Linked DNA regions of Homo sapiens: all the other regions are linked to region 4. Evidence: fine-mapped expression QTL. A gene starts in region 4. Each other region holds a variant in brackets. All regions are shown on one strand. Distances are from middle to middle. Region 1 overlaps CAST (calpastatin). Region 2 has its middle 15 kb from the start of ERAP2. Region 3 overlaps LOC101929710 (a long non-coding RNA gene). Region 4 holds the start of ERAP1 (endoplasmic reticulum aminopeptidase 1).

The links. PIP is the estimated chance that this variant, and not a neighbour inherited with it, causes the effect.
Region 1: its variant is the best candidate, but not a certain one, in a credible set for the expression of ERAP1 in whole blood (INTERVAL, PIP 0.50).
Region 2: its variant is the best candidate, but not a certain one, in a credible set for the expression of ERAP1 in whole blood (INTERVAL, PIP 0.89).
Region 3: its variant is the best candidate, but not a certain one, in a credible set for the expression of ERAP1 in whole blood (INTERVAL, PIP 0.65).

What each region holds. Positions count from the first base shown.
Region 1 is chr5:96,727,563-96,732,713 of GRCh38, reverse strand. CAST (calpastatin) reads right to left here. Exons shown (of 32, transcript NM_001750.7): 7 at 3,505-3,561; 8 at 2,989-3,102; 9 at 1,854-1,934. Among named protein-coding and RNA genes, the nearest start is that of CAST, 68 kb to the right of the region's middle. The variant T/G (reference allele first, on the strand shown) is at 2,365.
Region 2 is chr5:96,858,680-96,863,830 of GRCh38, reverse strand. It overlaps a transcript of ERAP1 not described here. Among named protein-coding and RNA genes, the nearest start is that of ERAP2, 15 kb to the left of the region's middle. The variant A/C (reference allele first, on the strand shown) is at 2,550.
Region 3 is chr5:96,501,053-96,506,203 of GRCh38, reverse strand. The region is part of intron 4 of LOC101929710 (a long non-coding RNA gene); the gene reads right to left. It also overlaps a transcript of CAST not described here. Among named protein-coding and RNA genes, the nearest start is that of PCSK1, 70 kb to the right of the region's middle. The variant CTG/G (reference allele first, on the strand shown) is at 2,226.
Region 4 is chr5:96,805,438-96,810,588 of GRCh38, reverse strand. ERAP1 (endoplasmic reticulum aminopeptidase 1) reads left to right here and starts at 2,644. Exons shown (of 19, transcript NM_001040458.3): 1 at 2,644-2,729. It overlaps LOC124901033 (a long non-coding RNA gene), which reads right to left and starts at 3,131. Exons shown (of 3, transcript XR_007058879.1): 1 at 2,012-3,131. RefSeq lists enhancers at 1,964-2,033, 2,190-2,689, 2,690-3,191 and a silencer at 2,764-3,223.

The sequences.
Region 1 (5,151 bases), 78 kb after region 4:
CAGCACCATTTATTAAATAGGGAATCCTTTCCCCATTGCTTGTTTTTCTCAGGTTTGTCAAAGATCAGACGTTAGACCTAAAACCATAAAAACCCTAGAAGAAAACCTAGGCATTACCATTCAGGACATAGGCATGGGCAAGGACTTCATGTCCAAAACACCAAAAGCAATGGCAACAAAAGCCAAAATTGACAAATGGGATCTAATTAAACTAAAGAGCTTCTGCACAGCAAAAGAAACTACCATCAGAGTGAACAGGCAACCTACAAAATGGGAGAAAATTTTCGCAACCTACTCATCTGACAAAGGGCTAATATCCAGAATCTACAATGAACTCAAACAAATTTACAAGAAAAAAACAAACAACCCCATCAAAAAGTGGGCGAAGGACATGAACAGACACTTCTCAAAAGAAGACATTTATGCAGCCAAAAGACACATGAAAAAATGCTCATCATCACTGGCCATCAGAGAAATGCAAATCAAAACCACAATGAGATACCATCTCACACCAGTTAGAATGGCAATCATTCAAAAGTCAGGAAACAACAGGTGCTGGAGAGGATGTGGAGAAATAGGAACACTTTTACACTGTTGGTGGGACTGTAAACTAGTTCAACCCTTGTGGAAGTCAGTGTGGCGATTCCTCAGGGATCTAGAACTAGAAATACCATTTGACCTAGCCATCCCATTACTGGGTATATACCAAAAGGACTATAAATCATGCTGCTATAAAGACACATGCACAAGTATGTTTACTGCGGCATTATTCACAATAGCAAAGACTTCGAACCAACCCAAATGTCCAACAATGACAGAGTGGATTAAGAAAATGTGGCACATATACACCATGGAATACTATGCAGCCATAAAAAATGATGAGTTCATGTCCTTTGTAGGGACATGGATGAAATTGGAAATCATCATTCTCAGTAAACTATCGCAAGAACGAAAAACCAAACACCGCATATTCTCACTCATACGTGGGAATTGAACAATGAGATCACATGGACACAGGAAGGGGAATATCACACTCGGGGGACTGTGGAGGGGTGGGGAGAGGGGGGAGGGATAGCATTGGGAGATATACCTAATGCTAGATGACGAGTTAGTGGGTGCAGCGCACCAGCATGGCACATGTATACATATGTAACTAACCTGCACAATGTGCACATGTACCCTAAAACTTAAAGTATAATGAAAATAAATAAATAAATAAATGCAAAAAAAAAAAAAAAAACCTTAAAGGATAAGGTAAAAAAAAAAATTCTATATTGCTATGGGTAGAAAAGGTAGATAACTTCTCATCTTATATTCCTGGGCAAGTATTGGAAGCAGCTCTTCAAAAAATCTAAGGAAGTTATGCCCACAATCACCCAGCTCAACACATCTACTTCATCCTGAGAGGACTTGAAATATTTCCTTTGAAAACTTCTCATATCCATTCATGTTGATGTCATAGTTGTGATACACTAGTATCAAGACAGCTGGCATCAGCATTGAAAGCTGAAAAAGCCGATTCAAATGCTCCTGGAAATTGTATTTGCTTTATTTCATATCTATACATTTGGAAGGGAGAGTCTGAGTCAACTCACATTTTAATGTCCTTGGTATTGATATCAGTACGTTATATATGGCATGTACTCAGTAAGCAGTTATTGAATATATAAATTTACAAATTATTTTTGGTATCTTGTTCACTCTCTATCCCTTAAATGCATGCTCTTCACAAAATTTTACATATAAGCAGTGTTCAGTTTTGCCAGATGATAGGTTATTTGAGCATACGTTTCTCATAAAAGAAACTTGAGAAGCACAGAGGCCCACGTTTCCGTCTGCTTGTGTGTGCTCACCTTGTCACCCGGCTTGCCAGATATTGCAGTGATACCAGCAACACTCTCTCCACCAGCAGAAATCATGTCTTGTGGTTTAGTCTAAGACAGTGAGGATAAAAGGTTGACAGAGCTAAGTATCTCTGCATGGCTATTATCAAGATCATGAGTTTCAAATGTCACTAACATCTGCCAGTTCACCCTCACGGACACCATAAGGGAATGTTTGCTCACTTCTATTGTACATGGTGCAGTGCTAAGCACCACATAAAGCTGGACTCAAGAGCCTAAAACGTTCACGCAGGTAACTTGCGTAGGTCAATCAGGCTAGGTAAGGATTGTGGTAAACTGGAGCACACATACCAGGTGTAATGGCTCTAGTCAATTGTTGCCACGTGAGCTCACTCTTACTAGATAGTCTGATTTTTCAAGAGAAGTTACAATTTGGGATGTTATGTGAAATGCCCTGACTTTGATTGCTGGCAATTAATTAAAAATAATTTTTTAACAACATTGTAAGCCAAACAAAATA[T/G]ACATGTGGCATTTAAGTGGTAGATCACAAATCTGTGATCTCTGATATAAAATATACTGTGAAGCAGACCTCGTTATTATCTTCCAAGTGCTCTCAATGAAAAAGTATTTCTTGTAGATGTTAATTCTTCTAAAAGGTGGCTGCTATTAACTACAGAAGTATGGAAGCAATTTCTAATTTTTGGCTCTGTAAGTTCAGCTCTTCTACAACACGACCCTAAAAATGCTTTAGGATTTCCATTTAAAGAACCAGATAATTCAGGGCACATATGTTCCCCAGCCCAGGTGTGGGGGGTCCAGGAGGCAGCCTCAATCCAAAGCTGCCTGTCTGGGAGACAGCAGAGCCTGCTGCCCTGCAGTCACAGCTGGTTATTGCTGGGCAGTAGGAGAAGGACGGACAGCGCATCCCCTAGACCAATCTGATGCCCTTCTCAAGCCATCCATGCATCCAAGTTCCTACAAGTCTATTTGAAAAACCAACAAAATAATAATACCAAATCACTATAATACAAAATATATTCAGCACAGCCCCATAGATTGAACTACACACCTCAGTGTGAACAGGGGAACCGTATCTTATTATCCAGTTGATGTTAAGGTTTTCCTATCAATCTGCTTCATTTACCTTTGGTTCTGTTGATTTCTCTGATGGCTGCTGTTCAGCTGATCTGGAAACTGCTTTTTTATTGTGAGCATCGTTACTTCCTGTATCTGATGCCTGCTTGGGTAGGCTTTTTGGCTGAAAGTACACACACAGGTGCCCACACACATATAAAGACATTGTTAACAAGATGGTAGTCTTAAACATAATACTGATACTTTTCTCTATAGAATAAAAATTGTTCATAACAGTTGTGCTGTCTGTGGTTCTAAATTATGTAAATTTCAATTAGTGTGATGTACATGTGACAATTTCACTTTAGGTACAAAATTTGAAATAGTGCAAATCCTTCCCCCAAAATTCAGCAAGAATCACATAAATTGTAAACACTGCTATTGCCACAGGATGGCACCATTTTAGCTGAAAAAACTAATATCCAACTATCCATTGTAGGGATTAGTTTTGAATTAATGAAAGATTTTAATTATATCCCACCAAAAGAGGTTGCCTTATAATTAAGTCCTGATGATAATCATTTACCTCTGTGTGTTCTTTTGGCTTTCCTTCTTGGGATTTTTTCTCATGAACCACAGACAGCTGTCAATTTCAAAAGATTAAACTTGATTACACTGGAATCCAACTTGTAATACTTTCAAACAAGAACAAGAACAAAATTCCAACTAAAACATTCTGCCTTTTTCAGGAAAAGCCCGCTTAGGCCCACTCAGGCCCACTCTTTAGGATCACAGAAGTAGACATGTGGTATCAGGTCAATAGTAACCCTGTCAGCAGTCTCTGAGAATGGTGATTATCAGAATAATGAAAAATTCAGTATTTCATCTGAATAATATTTTCAAATACACGTATGTCTCTAAATTACTGGTTGTTTTTCACAAATGTACACAGATAACACATGAGCCATGTGACTACTGAGTTTGTTGACAGCTAATCCCACTCTAGAAAATATATTTTAGGCCAGGCGCGGTGGCTCACGCCTGTAATCCCAGCACTTTGGGAGGCCGAGGCGGGCGTATCACAAGGTCAGGAGATCAAGACCATCCTGGCTAACACAGTGAAACCCCGTCTCTACTAAAAATACAAAAAAATGAGCCAGGCTTGGTGGCGGGTGCCTGTAGTCCCAGCTACTCGGGAGGCGGAGGAAGGAGAATGGCGTGAACCCGGGAGGCGGAGCTTGCAGTGAGCCAAGATGGCGCCACTGCACTCCAGCCTGGGCGACAGAGCGAGACTCCGTCTCAAAAGCAAAAAAAAAAAAAAACTCCTTTCATAGGATTTACAGAGTTTTGTTTCTTTGTTAGTAGAGAAGATCTTACCACCAGAAACCCAATTTTCTTGCGATTCAGTAGATAAAAGTATTTAAAGTGGAATAGAAGACAACTTCCACTTAGCTGCTGAATTCTTCACTCGGAGTACCCTATGTTCTACCATCCCCAGGGGCCACCAGGAGGCCTTCCACAAAATCAGACAAGCCTCACCTTTCACCCTCACCTGTGCCTGAAGTACCTGGGCTCAAATATCTGTGCTTTTCCACAGGAAACCTTGTGGTCTTGTCTTAGTACTTGCTTTAAGTGCTTGACAAAATAAAATGCAGCACCTTATTGAAGAGAAACATTTGTGCTGCCGTACACAACCTGGGGTTCACCTCCATGCAGAGGCAGAATGGCATTCATTCTGGACAGTCATGGGTCAGGAAAGTAACAGAAGCTAGCCTCCTGTGTAACTGTTAACTAGCTCCACCAACTGAGGTAAGACTGTCACGATAAACCCAGCCAGCCTCTTAGGAAAGATTCTCATCCCTAAGCCATCTAGGTGCTGAGTTCAGCAGACACCTTATTCTTGATGTCTCATTGGAATTGGAATTGGATATTCATTACTACTCTTTGCCTTTTTTCTTCTGTTCCTCTTGCTTTTTTCTTTTTTAAAGCAATCACTATACATATAACAAAAAACTAGATTTGAACAAAATGCTTCTGAAATAGTTTTCATTTATAAAATATTATATATTCTTTTTAACAATATACGGACTTAATGTTATATTTTATATATTCTACATGTACACAGCCATTCAAAAGGGTCTAAAAATTAATTAAATTAGCCAGCAACCCCCTTTACCATTCACAGCTGTGCCAAGGCAGGAAGTTGATTATTCATTATTATTAAAAAGAATCC
Region 2 (5,151 bases), 53 kb before region 4:
TTCCTGGTTGGAATTAGGGGTTTGTACCAGAGAGGAGTGGTAGACGTGACTGGATCCTGAACATATCTAGCTTGAAGAACTAATAACAATTTTCACATAAAAATCAGTGGGTAGTTAGAAATGTGAACAAAAATGTATGAAAAAATCAGGTAGGAATTCACATAAAAAGGCAGCAAAGTCGTGACCATGGGTGAATCTGCTAAGAGAAAATACAGAGTAAAAAGAGAAAGAGGCTGAAGGAGCTTCTGTTTCGGGGAACAAGAAAAAGAAAAGACAGCCAGAGAAATCGGGCACGGGGGAGGATTATAAGAACATGACAGAAGCCAAGAGAAGAGAATTTCATGAAAAAGTGGTGATCAGGAGACACAAATGAAAGGTGAGTGAGGATGGTGATTGAGAAAAACCCACTGAATTGGATGACACAGAAAATGCCTCTGAGAGAAACCGCTTAACTTCAGGGATAGGCAAAGGGTGAAACCACACTGCAGAGGGCTAAGGAGGTGGACGGTGGGAGTAGAGCTGTTGGTAGAATCTGTAGAGGTTCTGGTGTAGAGGCTCTGCAGCTGACAGAGGGCAAATTGTGAGGGAGGGTGCAGGAAGAGACTGATTGGGGAACAAGCCTTGGGTACTTAGAATGGAGAGGAGCCTGAGGAGGGCACACAGGGAGTGAAGGTGGGGGCAGGGGGCAAACTTAGGGCACAGTGGTGGATTTAGAGAAGAGAGACTTGAGAGGATAGTGCAGGTGGATCTTCTAACAAAAGAAGAAATACTTATGTAAAAAAAAATAAGTGAATCATAAGTTTCCAAGAAGCATAAGTTAACATGGCAAGTGTGCCACTTTCAGTTATGCCCTGCTCAACCCAGATACGGGTGAGGGTAAACGAGGTAGCTCTGAAAGGTCCAAGGCATTTTGGTAGGAAGTAACAGCAAAATGGCAGGGGGACAGGAAAGGTCAAAATGAGACCTTTTCTTAGGGATGGGCCCAGAGAATGGTGCAGGGATAGTCTTGTAACAAGCACTTCTCTTCCTCCTTAATCTCTCAATTGCCTCATATGCTTGGAATGAGGCAGAGCATAAAGAATAATCTCTAGGCAATCATGGTGGCTGCAGAGAAGGTTACCCTGTTGCCATCAAGAAAAGATCAGCTTAAAATGAAACAACAGAGGTCTTTAAAACTCATTCGCTACTAAAAGTCAACCATTCACCAGACAATGATGGAATCTTTTAATGCCCCTTATTCATAACCACTGTAATTTCAGGGAGTTTCTGTTACAAGTTCCAGATCTCATATCTGGCTTTGACACACTGAAATATTTGCTAATAGCTGCCTTCTGATTTTCTGTGACAGCTTGGGTTAGACTGATTCTCAGGCCATCTTCACAAGGTTGGCAGCCGCAATTTCACTAATAAGAAGGCAAGTTTATTTATTTATTTACATGATTATTTGTTGTAAAAGTTTACTGTTTATTGAGATGGCACTTGGGTAGCAATGTCTTGTCCACTAAAGAACTTATAGTATCACCTTTTGTAAAGATTGATTTAGACTGGGCAGGGTGGCTCATGCCTGTAATCCCAGCACTCTGGGAGGCTGAGGCAGGATTGTTTGAGGCCAGGAGTTTGAGACCAGCTTGGACAACATAGGAAGATCCCATCTCTACAAAAAATAAAAAGAAAAAAATAAAACTAGCTGGGCATGATTGTGTGCACCTGTGGTTCCAACTTCTTGGGAGGCTGAGCCAAGAGGATCACTTGAGCCCAGGAGTTCAAGGATGCAGTAAGCCATGATTGCACTATTGCACTCCAACCTGGGTGACAGAGCAAGACCTTGTCTTGATTTTTTTTTCAAAAAGAATCACAATATACCTTGGTTCACAAGTCATACAAGCTTTTTAGAATGGGATGCTTTAAATTTCAAGTTTATTTTGATCATTAAAAAGTAATAGGCAAAATTACTGTTGGGTAAATGCAACAGAATTCCCGCAAGGATGTTGTCTCTGCTCTGTAGTCACAGTGGAATGTTAAGCACATGGGCTTTGAAGTTAAATGTCCTGGGTTCAAATGCTGGGCCATGTACTTCAGTTAGATGTTTAAGTTCTGTTGCCTCACTTTCCTCATTTGTAAAGTGGGGATAATTAAAATACCTGTCTTAAAGTGTTGTAGCTGGGATCAAATAAGATGGTATGTGATGAAGCCTGGCATATCCCAAGTGCTCCAGAGATATTAGTGCTTATTATTACTGAGGAGGACGAATGGTATCCACAGCATCAGAGGAAACATTGCCAATTCTGATTAAGGCTTTCAGAAATATCTTCAAGTACCTTTGGAGCTGCTTATGAACCTTGAGACTATCCCTGTGAAATCTTTAAATGAGAATAAGCACATACCAGTCAAAAGCCACCTAGATTTTTACCTAATCTGCATTCAGATCCGCTGGGGCTCAGGCTGCTCATCAGAAACTCTCCTTAATTAGGCCACTCTATCCTTTGTTACCAGAGAGTTAGTCGAAGGCTGCCTTAGTGAAGTATCTGTGTGTTCATTACCTCTGTAAC[A/C]TGAAGATGTCCCCAGGGAAAACCCACACTGATGCCACCTGCTTCTGGAAGCCACAGCAAGTGATAAGACCAGCAGATCAGAGGCACAAGCCCTTGTTCATACCTTCTTTGTTGTGGAGTGGTCAGATGCCTTATTTGTGGGAATTGATGAAAATATTTTGGCAGTTCAAAGAATTGTCAGGAAGGCTGTAGAAACAGACTTACAAACTTCTAGGGAGACAATTTGGCCACAGAATCACAAAGGCAGGTTTTGACCTTGTAATGACTGCTCTCTTCAGTCGGTAGAGGCTTCTGCCCACACAATTAAAAAAAAAAAAAGAAAGAAAAGAAAGCTCTACATGAAGACTGTTTACCTGTGTTGCTCACTTGTAAATTGAAGTCGCACATTACTGCATTGGATTGGCAGAGGTAAGTCACTTGTCTGCAATTTGGCTATAATGGAGGCTGGAAATTTGAGTCTGATTTCTTTGGGGCAGTGGGACTGAAAAGTGAGGCAATCATTTAGAATATGATAAACAGCAACCAACTGACAAATGTGCATTAGCTCCCCCTTTTATTCCACTCCCCTGAATTCTAGCCAACTCCTTCTTGTGGAAGTCTTCCAGAAACTGACTCTTACTCAAGGAAACCTTCCTAGACCCCCTTACACTCAACTGGGTTACCAGACAGTAATATAGTAAGGTTGGGGCCCATGTCTTTTTCATTCAGTGCTATATTTTAGTATCTAATACAGTGAGCTTGGCACACAGTAGTTGCTAAATAATTTTGTTGAATGAATGTAAGACTAGTTCTTCTCCTCTGTAAATTCAGCCTTAATATCACCACCACAAACAACAACACAGGCCTAATTTATCATTATAAATATAATTACTTATATTTATAAATACACATCCTGTGAAACACATTCTCATTATAAATTTATAGACAGGGCTGGGTGTAGTGGCTCACACTTGTAATCCCAGCACTTTGGGAGGCCCAGGCAGGTGGATCACCTGAGGTCAGGAGTTCGAGACCAGCCTGGCCAACATGGTGAAACTCCGTCTGTACCAAAAATACAAAAATTAGCCAGGCGTAGTGGCACACGCCTGTAATCCCAGCTACTCTGGAGGCTGAGGCAGAAGAATTGCTCGAGACAGAGGTTGCAGTGAGCCGAGATCATGCCACTGTGCTCCAGCCTGGTCAACAGAGTGAGACTCTCTCAAAAATTAAATAAATAAATAAATAAATAAAATTAACAGATTGATAGACAATATGTATTTTGGGCTGTACTTTATCTCAATATGATGTTAAATCACAAAACGATATGCCATTCACTGCAGCCCAGCCCAAGCTCAGGGAAGGTAGTATGCTAAGTATTATTTTACACCAGCTAGAGGGGATTTTAAATTTCATGTATGAAAAATCTCCCTCAAACATTAACATAGCCTGCTTGGCCTTACTGATGTTATTAGGCTGATGTCAATAGGTCAGAGTCATAGTTGCCAGCCAAAATTAATAATGCCATAAGTACTACTAGGCTTGCTTAGCAGTTAACAAAAACTTTGATATATATTATGTCATTGATCCTCAGAACAATCTCCACAGAAATCAGGGGAGATATTACAGATGAGAAAATAGAAGCCCAGTGAGGTTAAGTGGTTTGCCAAGGTCTTAACAGTGACTAGATGAAAGGCCAAGGCAGGATCTAGCCTCTCAGCTCTGTCCTGGGCATTCCCCACATTGCACTGTGCAGCTTGTGTGACATTGAGGCTCAGATTGCCCCAATTCTGGAAAGATACAAGCAGGGAACCATCCACCTACAGAGGAGAATGGTCTTCTTTGGTTCCGCCAATCTAGTATCCCAGCACAAACGGTCTGGGAGCCTGAGGCAATGCTCTGGGCAACAGAACTGTTCCCTCAACTCAACCTGCACTCGCAGAGCAACAGCGTGTTGGGAACACGAAGGTGAATGTGGCCCCCTGCTGTGTTTGGACTCTGTTTTCCAGGGGGGTTTTTTGGCAGTGTGGAAGGAAGGCTTTCCATTGACAGCCCCAAGTACAGACCAGGATGGACAAGAAGGACACTCCTGTGTCGCCCAGAGACCCAATTCAACAAACTGCACAGACAACTAACAAACGAAGGCCTTGTGCTAATTACTTAGGGGCATGGAAAGGAATAGAACATGTCTGTTGTTCAGTGTGTGTGTGTGTGTGTGTGTGTGTGTGTGTGTGTGTGTGTGTGTATGCATGTGGCAGGGCCTTGGTCTAACATAAGCTTCATCTTTTTCTTTTGGAATTGTAGCAACCAATATCATGCTTTGAAGGAGTAATCTTCAGAGCCAGGGTTCTTGGAACTGTTTTGTGATGTTGTTGGATTTGTGTTTGCCTGTGAATCAAGAACACAGGGAAGTTTTAAAGTGATGAGAATGACTTGCTGATGTTCCACACTGTTCCTCTTCCTTTTTCTCACTTTTATTCCTTTGCTGGGCTTCTATTCTGGACATGACATTTTAGCTACAGTAACTATCTATTTACATACCATGATTAATCTAACCTGGGGACTTCTCTGGGCTCTATAAAGGCAGCAGGTATAACAGGTGCAATGCTGATGGGGTGGAGGGCAT
Region 3 (5,151 bases), 300 kb after region 4:
ATGTGCCTGGCACTGTTCTAGGTTCTTGGGATCTATACAAATATTCCTGCCATCAAAGAGCTTGTGTTATGTGCAGCCTCTCATTATCCCACTTCATCCTCACAGCTACCCTGACGGGGAAAAATGGAAAACTAGAAAGGTTCATAATTTGCTTAAGAACATAAAACTTGTAGGTAGCAGAAATAAAATTGGAAAAATCTCTTCTTTCTCTAGTGCCATGGCCTTGTCATCCCAAACCACCAGGGCAGAGTTTAGCTTCTTTTCTGATCCCAGGGATCTAGAATCCTCAGGTACTCCAAGGTCAGGGAAATCCTGGTCTATCACTTCCCAGGCATTCAGAAGGCTGTTAGAAGGAGGCTGAGGAAACCCATAAGGTGCCCTGTTGATGAAGCCTGTGGATGTAGCTTCCACCCAGCTGGCGGCAGTAGGACTGACAAGGCCTGTGCACCCAAAACCCTTCTGCTCTTACCTCTTCAGGAGCAGCCTCAACTGGGTCCTTTTAGCCTGAGATCTCTGAAAGAGGCCCCTTCAGGCTCAGTGCACAGAAGCAGGGCACAGAAAGTGGAGGCAAAAGAACTGAGAACCAGTGGTGATTCTATGCCTTTCCTTTGTCAGCAGAGTTCTAAAAAAGGCCCTTCTCTATGGGCTAAAGATTCAGCAGTGACAGAAGAGGATTTAATAATATTCCTTTTCCTTAGATTTTATTTATTTTTATTATTTTTTTTGAGACGGAGTCCCACTCTGTTGCCCAGGCTGGAGTGCAGTGGCGGGTCTCGGCTCACTGCAACCTCCACCTCCCGGGTTCAAGTGATTCTCCTGCATCAGCCTCCTGAGTAGCTGGGATTACAGGCACCCGCCACCATGCCCGGCTAAAGTTCTACTACTTTTATTGCTCATGATTCTATGTCTAAAAACTTTGCTAAATTATGCTCAAAATTTTTATTTATTCTTTGAGATTGGGTGATTTCATGGCCAATACAACCTTGAAAATGAGGCGTGGTTTTATTTTTTAACATTTTGAAGTTTGGCAGCTTTTTAGAAAGCTAAGCACATGCTAACCATTTGATCCAGCAGTTCGGCTCCTTTACATTTACCCAAGAGAAATGTAAACATGTGTCCACACAAAGGCTTATATTGAAATGTTCATAGCAGAGACACTATAGTCAAAAACTGGAAATACATCAATGATCCATCAACTGGTGAACGCATAAACAAAATGTGATCTACCCACAATGGCCACACTGGTAGCTGACTATTAAAAAATAACAAAATACTCATATGAGCAACAACGTGAATGAACCTCAAAAACACACTAGACACAAAGGCTACATATTGTGTTATTCCATTTATACGAAATTTCTAGAAATGGCAAAACAACAGATACAGAAAGCACATCATTTGTTGCCTGGATTTGAGGTGGGAGCAGAAATCAACAGCAAATGGCAAGAGGGAATTTTGGAGATGATGAGACTTTGGGGAAAGTGGACTGTGGTGACAGTTGCACAACTGTGTGTACCGTTACCAAATCTTGTCAAATTGTACATTTCAAGTGGGTGACTTTTATGGTTATATTATACCTCAATAAATCTATGAGAAGGGGGAAGAGGAATACGTTGTTTAGGCAGTGGTCTGTCTTTAAGATGAACAAAAAAACACGTTAGGTTAAAAAAAAAAAAAAAGTATTCTAAGCACAAACGATTTCCTTGGGATACGATTGCAAATTTAAAATCTGCTCATGAGGAAATTAATATTTGCTCAAACACAGTGATCATCTGACATTTCAAGCTGGTTCCTGTGTGGGTGGAAATGTGCAAGCACATCTGTGTTACCTCTTGGAATTCTTTGGAGGACTTTTTTTTGACAGGATCACAGGATAAACTGCCATCGTGTATGGGAAATGAGAAAAGAGACAATATCTGTGCTGAACTGGATGTGCCGGTGAGGTCTTTTTGAAAAAGCTGATGGGGCCAGATAGCGCTGGGGAGAGGGTGGAGAGTGATAAGGTAGGACTGGCAGCAAGATTCGAATTCTCCTCCCTCCAGCTGGCCTGCTGAGAGGACCAATGGACATAAGAAACAAAGCATGTCATAGGCCGTGCATTCAAACAATATCAATCGGCCCTCAGAGAAAGCACACAATGGTCAAGGTGGCATTTCAATAAAGCAGACAGCTGCCTTCTGGCCTGCATGTCAGCCTCCCTGCAGCCTGGAGAGTCACTTCTCTCT[CTG/G]TGGGAAAGCCTGCTGGAGGCATATTGGCTACAAGATGAGGTTTCTTTTTCCATTTTCTTCTTCTTTTTTGCAAAAATCAGCTTGAAGCTCGTTAATGTCAGGAATGAGAGTGAAGCGCTCTTACGAAATATGAAAGGTGGGGTGCAGGCCAGGGAAAGGACTAAAAGGGTGGAGGTGTTGGAAAGGTGGGATAAAAGCATGGTGGAGGGGAAGGCGTGAGCCCTGTCATTTGGGCTGCTGCGCTTGGGCTTCTATTCCCTCAAGTGAGACTATCAGAAGGAGTCCGCATTTTTCAATAGAGCAGCACGACATTAAGCGGATGGTTTCTGAACACTGGCACTTCAGACTGTGAGGTCTCTGTGGGTGGGTTTTATGCCGTGCTCTTTGGTTGCTGGAATAGAAATCCCACGGGAATCGTGTAGCAGCAGCAGACTTTGTGGATAGCAAAGAGGATTATGTGAGGTGGGTAAGAGCTTTCTTTCCCCCTTTCTTCTCTTTTCTTTTTCTTTTTAATGGGGGCATTCAATTTCCCAGAGAAATGGAACCATGTCTTCACAGCCAAAGAAAAAAGGGAGGTTTAAGGCAGAGCTCAAATAATTCAGGCCAAAGAGGATTTGTGCTGGCCACCCCCTTTCACCTTCACCTTACATAGGAGAATATATTGTGAACAAGTACTTCTGAGGCAAAAAGGAGGAAAATGAGCCAAGAATAAAAACAAACAATTCATGGGTAAGGACATATAAGTGAAAATCAATATAGGAAAAGGCTTGAAACTCCTAGTAACTAGTGAAATACAAACTAAAGCAAACATGAGATACCAGTTTTTACATTTCTAATTTAAAAAGATTGAAAGGTATTACAGTACTCTGAAGACAAGGAGCAGGCCTTCCATATATTGCTTGTGGGAATGTAAATTACAGTAGCCTTTTAGTAAGGCAACCAACAACTAGCTTTTTAAGCTTAAAAAGAAATCAGAAAAGACCCCCAAGTCCTCCTCTTTGCAATTAAACTCACAGAAATGAAAAGCACCAGCTTGTTGGATGGCAGAAAAACTGGAAACAACCCAAAGCCATGAACCATGAATCAAAGAGGGATGAAGAATTATAGGGCATCTGTATTATAGAGTGCCATGTGGATATTTAAAGAAGTGAGTTGGAGTCATATTGATTAATCTGGCAAAAATTTCCATAGTCTTTTATGCTTGCAAATGTTTCTAAGTAATACATGTAGTAGATCTAATATTTAGTAAAAAACATAAACTCCCACCTCACCCCCAAAAGCAGATAGAGGTCAATGTTTAGATGGATAGAAGAAAGAAAGAAAGAAAGAAAGAAAGAAAGAAAGAAAGAAAGAAAGAAAGACTAGGTAACTTGCTAACCTTGATTATCTTAACAGAGTAGGATGGGGGAAAAGCATTAATTTTTTTTATACATCTTTGAATTGTTCATTTGTGACAAAGAACATGCACTGTTTTTTAATTAAACAATTTCTTTAATCTTTAATTTTAAGAAATAAAAAATTAATTAAAATTAAAGAATTTTTAAAAATTAAAATCCTTTAATTAAAAAAGAAATACTGCTATGAACTCAGTCCTGTCCTGAGATCCTGTTTCTGCTATCAAACAGCTTACAACCTAGTTCAAATAATAATATAAACAAAAGCAACCAGAGAAAAACAAATGACAATACACGTCAAGATATTCTTTGCCTTTGGAGGCTGGACAACAATGTGGGCCAAGGCAAGAGGGTAGAATTATGTGTTATTTTTATTTGATGGAAGAGAAGGTAGTCAGAGATTTGAAGTACAGGATTTATGTTATGAGTGCTGTGAGAGAAAAAAGGTTAAATCTACAGGGTGGAACTATCACATCAATCTTGCCAATTGTGTTTTTTTCAAATGTTCCAAATCTTTGCAGACTATTTTTTATGTGAGAAAAATAAAGTCCTGTGTACTTAATAACAGAGACATGCTCTGGGAAATGTGTTGTTAGATGACTTTGTTGTTGTAGGTATATCATAGGTGTACACCTCTTATACAAACCTAGATAATATAGCCTACTACACACCTACACACAATACGCTACAAAGCATGTTACTGTACTGAATACTGTAGACAATTGTAACAATTCACTAGGCAATAAGAATTTTTCAGCTCCATCATAATCCTATGGGATCACCGTTGTATATGTGGTCTGTCCTTGACTGAACTGTTATGTGGCACATGACTATACCAAAAGAAGTGTTTTAACATTTCCTGTTCTAATGGTGGATTTGTCCATTTCCTTTTGAATATTACTTAAATTGAGTGATGGGTTCATTGCATTACTTATCTCTGTTTATTCTACTTTAGAAAAAATGGGATTTATTTGGTGTATATAGAAACAAAACACATTTTCCTCTGGTCAATTTTTGCATTTTGTATTTTTGCAGCTATCACAAATGAAGAATTTTTATATCTTTCTGATGAAATGATCCTCTTATGATTGCATGGTTACCATTTCTATCCCTAGTAATGCTTTTTATCTTAAAGTAAATTTTGTCAGATATTAACGTTGTTCCACAAGTTTTTTTTGACTGATATTTAACTAGTATGAGATGATTATGCCTGTTTTATTTTTTAGGTATGTCTCTGACTAATTGTTTATAGATAAGAGTTTTTAAAAATCTATACTTCTAATCTTTAAATGAAGAGTTTAGCCCATGTACATTTATTGTGTTACTGACATATTTAAGTTTTTTTTGTCCTGTATTATTTAATATTTTATAGTTGTCTCAGGCCTTTTCATTCAGTAACCTCTTTCCTTGTCTGATGCCTCTGGTATCCGACCCATAACTTTTTAATCTAGATATGGCCATTCTGCCGAAGTTTTCAGGGTTTTCAGGTTGACGCCTCAGCCAGGCACTCTACCTGACTTTGTTAACTT
Region 4 (5,151 bases):
CAATATTAGTGTTTACCAACCCCTCCTTGTTCTGGCCAATGCAATGTGAGTAGAATTAGTGTGTGTTTTCTCTTTGACTCTGAGCAAGTTGCCGACCTGTCTCATTTTTCTCATCTATAAAGCATAATATCTACATTACAGGGTTGCTGAAGAGATCAAATTATAAACACACACATGCACACATAGCTAGCATTTAACAGTATCTAACAGTTGGTAGGGAATCAATAAACCTAGGTACCCTTTCTCTCTGTTCCCTTCCTTCTAACCATTTCTAAGCTCGGTAATGTGCTGTTTTGATCTCACAGGCTCTAGAACTAGGACTCCTTAAAGTCCTTACTCCAAGGTCTGTGTCCTCTACATCCCTGCTAGGGCTTTGAAACTAGAAGTGAATGCTGCCAAATCCTCTGACTTATCGCTCTTTGTAGTGCACTTCAACTCTAAAGACGAAATCACGGCCAGGGCGACAGGCTAAAGTCTGAGTCAGGGTGAGCTTTTGGGGAAACGGCGTGGAGCGGGTGGTGGTGTCAGCTCTCTCCTCGCCTACACTTCAGCTCCTTTCTGCCCACATCCATTCAGGGCATTGCCCTGTTTGTCTCCTCAGCTGTCTTCTGTATTAACCTCCAGCCTGTTGGGTGCATTCAGTTCTGCCAGCTGGACTTTCAATATGTATTTAAAAAGACACATAAACAAAAAACAAAAACAAAAACAAAAAAACTTTACTAGAAGCCAAAGGAAAACCATCATATTCAAAAATATAAATATAAAAGCAAAGAAATGCATACATTTACTGGACAAAGAGGTCTCATCTTGAGTAAACTGGGAGCACTCCGAGATGTCTGGAGGTCTTGGAGGCTACACGCTATCCATTGATACCTCCTGTCAAATTCTGAACATGCAGAAATTACCAGATCTCAAAGTCCTCATTTCTTGTTGAATTTTAGTGAAAAAAACTTCCCTGGATCCCACCGTAGTTGAGTCTTGGAACAGGGTGTTAATCTTTATATTATAAAATGTCCTTGACTAGAGATAATAGGCAGTATGAAACATTATATTTTTAAAAAGGAAACATAATATTGAAAAAAAAAGAGAAATACTGTTGCAGTGACTTGGAATCCCCAGTTCTCAAAGGGAAGAAGGCCAATAAAGAAGTGGGAGAAGAAAGTCTGAGAACCGCATGAAAAGGGTCCTGTTCCCACTAGGACCATGGTCCACTCACCAAATTATCAGAGACGTTTGAACCAGAGCAACTCCATCTTGAATAGGAGCTGGGTAAAATAAGGCTGAGACCTACTGGGCTACACTCCCAGGAGGTTAGACATTCTAAGTCACAGAATGAGATAGAAGGTAGGCACAAGACACAGGTCATAAAGACCTTGCTGATAAAACAGGTTGCAGTAAGGAAGCTGGCCAAAACCCACCAAAACCAGGATGGCAATGAGAGTGTCCTCTGGTCGTCACTGCTACGGTCTCACCAGCTCCATGACAGTTTACAAATGCCACTGCAACGTCGGGAAGCTACCCTATATGGTCTAAAAAGGGGAGGCATGAATAATTTCCCCCGCTTAGCATATAATCAAGAAATAACCCTAAAAATGGACAACCAACAGCCCTTGGGGGTGCTCTGCCTATGAGTAGCCATTCTTTTATTCCTTTAGTTTCTTAATTACTTGCTTTCACTTTACTCCATGGACTCCCCTCAAATTCTTTCTTGCGCAAAATCCAAGAACCCTCTCTTGGGGTCTGGATCGGGACCCATTTTCGGTAATAAACTTGTAGCATTTGGTGTTTTAATGTTTGTGTTTTCTTGACTTGTTACCTCATTTAGCCTCAACTGTTTAAAGATGGTCTTTTTGGCCATTTTATTCAGCTTTAATTGTTCTAAGGGGAGTGAAGAAATGGTCATTTACTTTGAAAAATCAGAGGGAACGTGTTGATGCGGGAAGCAGCTAATCCTTGGGGTACAGTGGCCCTTGGTAGTGCAGGAAAGTCCTGGGGGCCACCTCTAACCCACCTTCCTCCTCTACAGCATCTCCCACTGTAGTCATTCTCTACCGAAGCCCCAGAAGGTGCGGCACTTTGCCACGACAGAGTACTGGGTTCATGTTTCTTTCCGAGGCGGGCCAAGAGCTCTCAGCCCACTGGCAGTGGCGAGATGACGGACACCCAGCGAGTCCAATGGGCGTCGAACGCGTCTAGGCTTGGTGGACTTGTCAGCGCCTGCCTGGCTTCGGTCCCCAACTTGAGCACCGGCCCTTTCCTGCATGCCCCTAACCCTCGCAACGCTAAACAGTGAAAAAAAAAAAAAGACAAAAACAAAAAGCATCTCAACACACACACACACACACACACACACACACACACACACACACACACACACACACACACACACACACACACACACGGATCCGCGTTCAGAAAGGCGTGCACTTCCTACGCCTGATCCCCCGCATCGCAACCTCGCAGCTTCCCCGGCGTGCAGCGCTCATTTACCAATTCCCTTCCTGGGAGTTGCGGCTTCCCTCGCTCGGCCCCACTCCCGTTTACCCTTTCCCCAGCTCCCGCCTTAGCCAGGGGCTTCCCCGCCTGCCGCTAGGGCTCGGGCCGAAGCGCCGCTCAGCGCCAGCCTGCCGCTCCCCGGGCTCCACTTTCACTTTCGGTCCTGGGGGAGCTAGGCCGGCGGCAGTGGTGGTGGCGGCGGCGCAAGGGTGAGGGCGGCCCCAGAACCCCAGGTACAGCGCGCTCGAGCCGCGGGTAGGGGACTGCGGGCCGGGAGGAGAGCGCGGCACCCGCCCCTTCCCTGCGCCCGTCAAGTGGGGGGCTGAGGGCCTGGGGCACGGGAGGAGGGAGACGGGGCACGGGAGGAGGGAGACGGGGCGCGGGAGGAAGGCGACGGGGCGCGGGAGGAAGGCGACGGGGCGCGAGACAGGGCGCGGGAAGGGCGGGGGGAGTCGCTGGCTAGGCCCGAGTCCGCGGGGTGCCCGGCGGGTTGGCGGCGGGCCCACCCCTGCCGGTCCCTGTCCCTGTCCCTCCGGGCGCGTGGCCGGTGCGCCTGCTTCACGGGTCTCCCCGCTGTTCGGCCGGCGGGAGCCTCCCTCAGCGCTCCGCCTGGCGCCTGGATGCCTGCCAGTCCTGCAGGCCACCGACGCCCGCGCGAGGCCAAAAGGCGGGGTGGGGCGGGCAGCTGGCTCGGGCTGAGGAGGGCACCTGCCCATAGCTGCTAGAGAAACCCAGAGGCTTTGGGTTAAAGACTCTGGTGGGGTGGGATGCGCGGGCCGTGTGTGTTCTTAAGGTCACTTCCCTCCCTGCTTCTCCTGTTCTTCTGGTCAGCAATTCTCTCTCTCCCCTTCGCTCTGGCTCTGGCTGGGTTTTATTCAGATAAAGCACCTCTGTTGACGCAAATTAAAAGTTTCCTATCTGGGTGCCTCACTGGCCAGGTGGTCCTACAAAGTTAATTCCATGAGGGGAAGGGGGAGAGCACACACTTCCTCACGCTTTTGGATTTCTTTGTGTAGGCTAGGTTCAGAAAGAAATTATCTGTTTCCTATTAAACACCCAGAGGATTCGCTCTGAACTCAGGACGTGGTCAACAATTAACAAAACAACAAAACAAAACAAAACAAAACAAAAAACTTGAAAATTGGGCACAGTTGTCTCTTGCCTGAGGATTTTTAATTAGTATAAGTAGCACATTTTCAGGTGCGGCCTGAATAGAAACATTCTAGTACTTTTTTTTTTTTCAAATTAATCCAGCATTTTTATTATTTACCAACAGTGCTTGTTAATTTCATTGTTCAGGAAATTCTGGAAGAACCTCAATTACTTCTTGATGATCTATTTCATATACTATAGTGCCCCAATAAAAGGAAGGGAGGCAGAGGTTGCAGTGAGCCAAGATCGCACCACTGCACTCCAGCCTGGGAGACAGAGCGAGACTCCGTCTCAAAAAAAAAAAAAAAAAAAAAAAAGAGGGATCTTGGTGAAGCTGAAAAAGCAGGGAGTTTATACTCACACAGATGTGGATTGCATTCCAACAAGTTGTGTGAACTTAGCAAAGTTACATGAATGGTTCTTTGCTTCAGTTACCCCACCTTGAATGAGAATAATAGGCTATTAGAGAGAGTGAGCATGTGTAAAGTGCCTGGCACTTTGGAGGAGCTTAGTAAATATTAGTTCTTTTTCCTCCTTGGCTTCTATTCCTTTAAGTGTTAGTGGAGTGTAACTTCAAAGAGAATTGTACTTCTCTTGGGAAGAGCTGCTTATATTGAGTAGACTACTGTTTTTGAGAGCTTTCTTTTTTTTTAACTGCCTCCCTTTCAGAAAATTGTTAGTAAAACCAGACCCTAGGAGACCAGCCAGAACCATGAAATGCCATGTTTCAAACTGGAACACTTACTATTGGAAGCAAAGCCAAACAAGAGCTAATTTTTCAGGGGAAGAGCCAAACACACGAACATGATCACAGAATCTTGGATGTAGCCTACAGTTTGGGATTAATAAGAGAATTTATTAGTGAAGCCCTTTATTCACTACATGGAGTTTTTACCAAGCCCCACTCATGCACTGCATCCTCGTTGAGACATAACTGTTTCTCTTTGGACCCCTCATGGACCCAACCCTGCAAAGCCTCTGATCCAAGGTCCCGGTACCAACCCCTTCCGCAGCACATCAGCCTTTCTGTCAGCTCATAACGAGTTGGAATTTCTAGATCTTCTCTGGGGCTGTTGGAGAGGTCTCGGGGACTTTCAGAGTCCTTACATGCTTGAACCTGCCACCTTCACAGAGTCCTCTGGATCCCGTCTTGGGGCAGGGGCGATGCTCATTAAGCTGTTGCTGCCAGTAATTCCATATGGAAAGCAAAACACAAGTTCCATTTACTCTCTAGTTCCCCAACTTCAAGGGCAAAAAAATGTTCTCCCTGTTCACACTTCCTGTCTCACCTGGGTGGTGCCTTTTGAACTGGGATTATGAGATTTCCAAGACTCTCTCTAATGTGTAGGTATCCTTTCTGTTTAGCCTCCAGATTGCTCCAGAGGTGAGGAGAAGGGAATTCCCTTGAGCTGTGCATTTGGGAAGGGAGCAAGGAAGTCAGGGGTTAGGGAAGGCACTTCAGCCATTGCCTTGAATTAGTATCCTATCACATAGAGTTGAAGG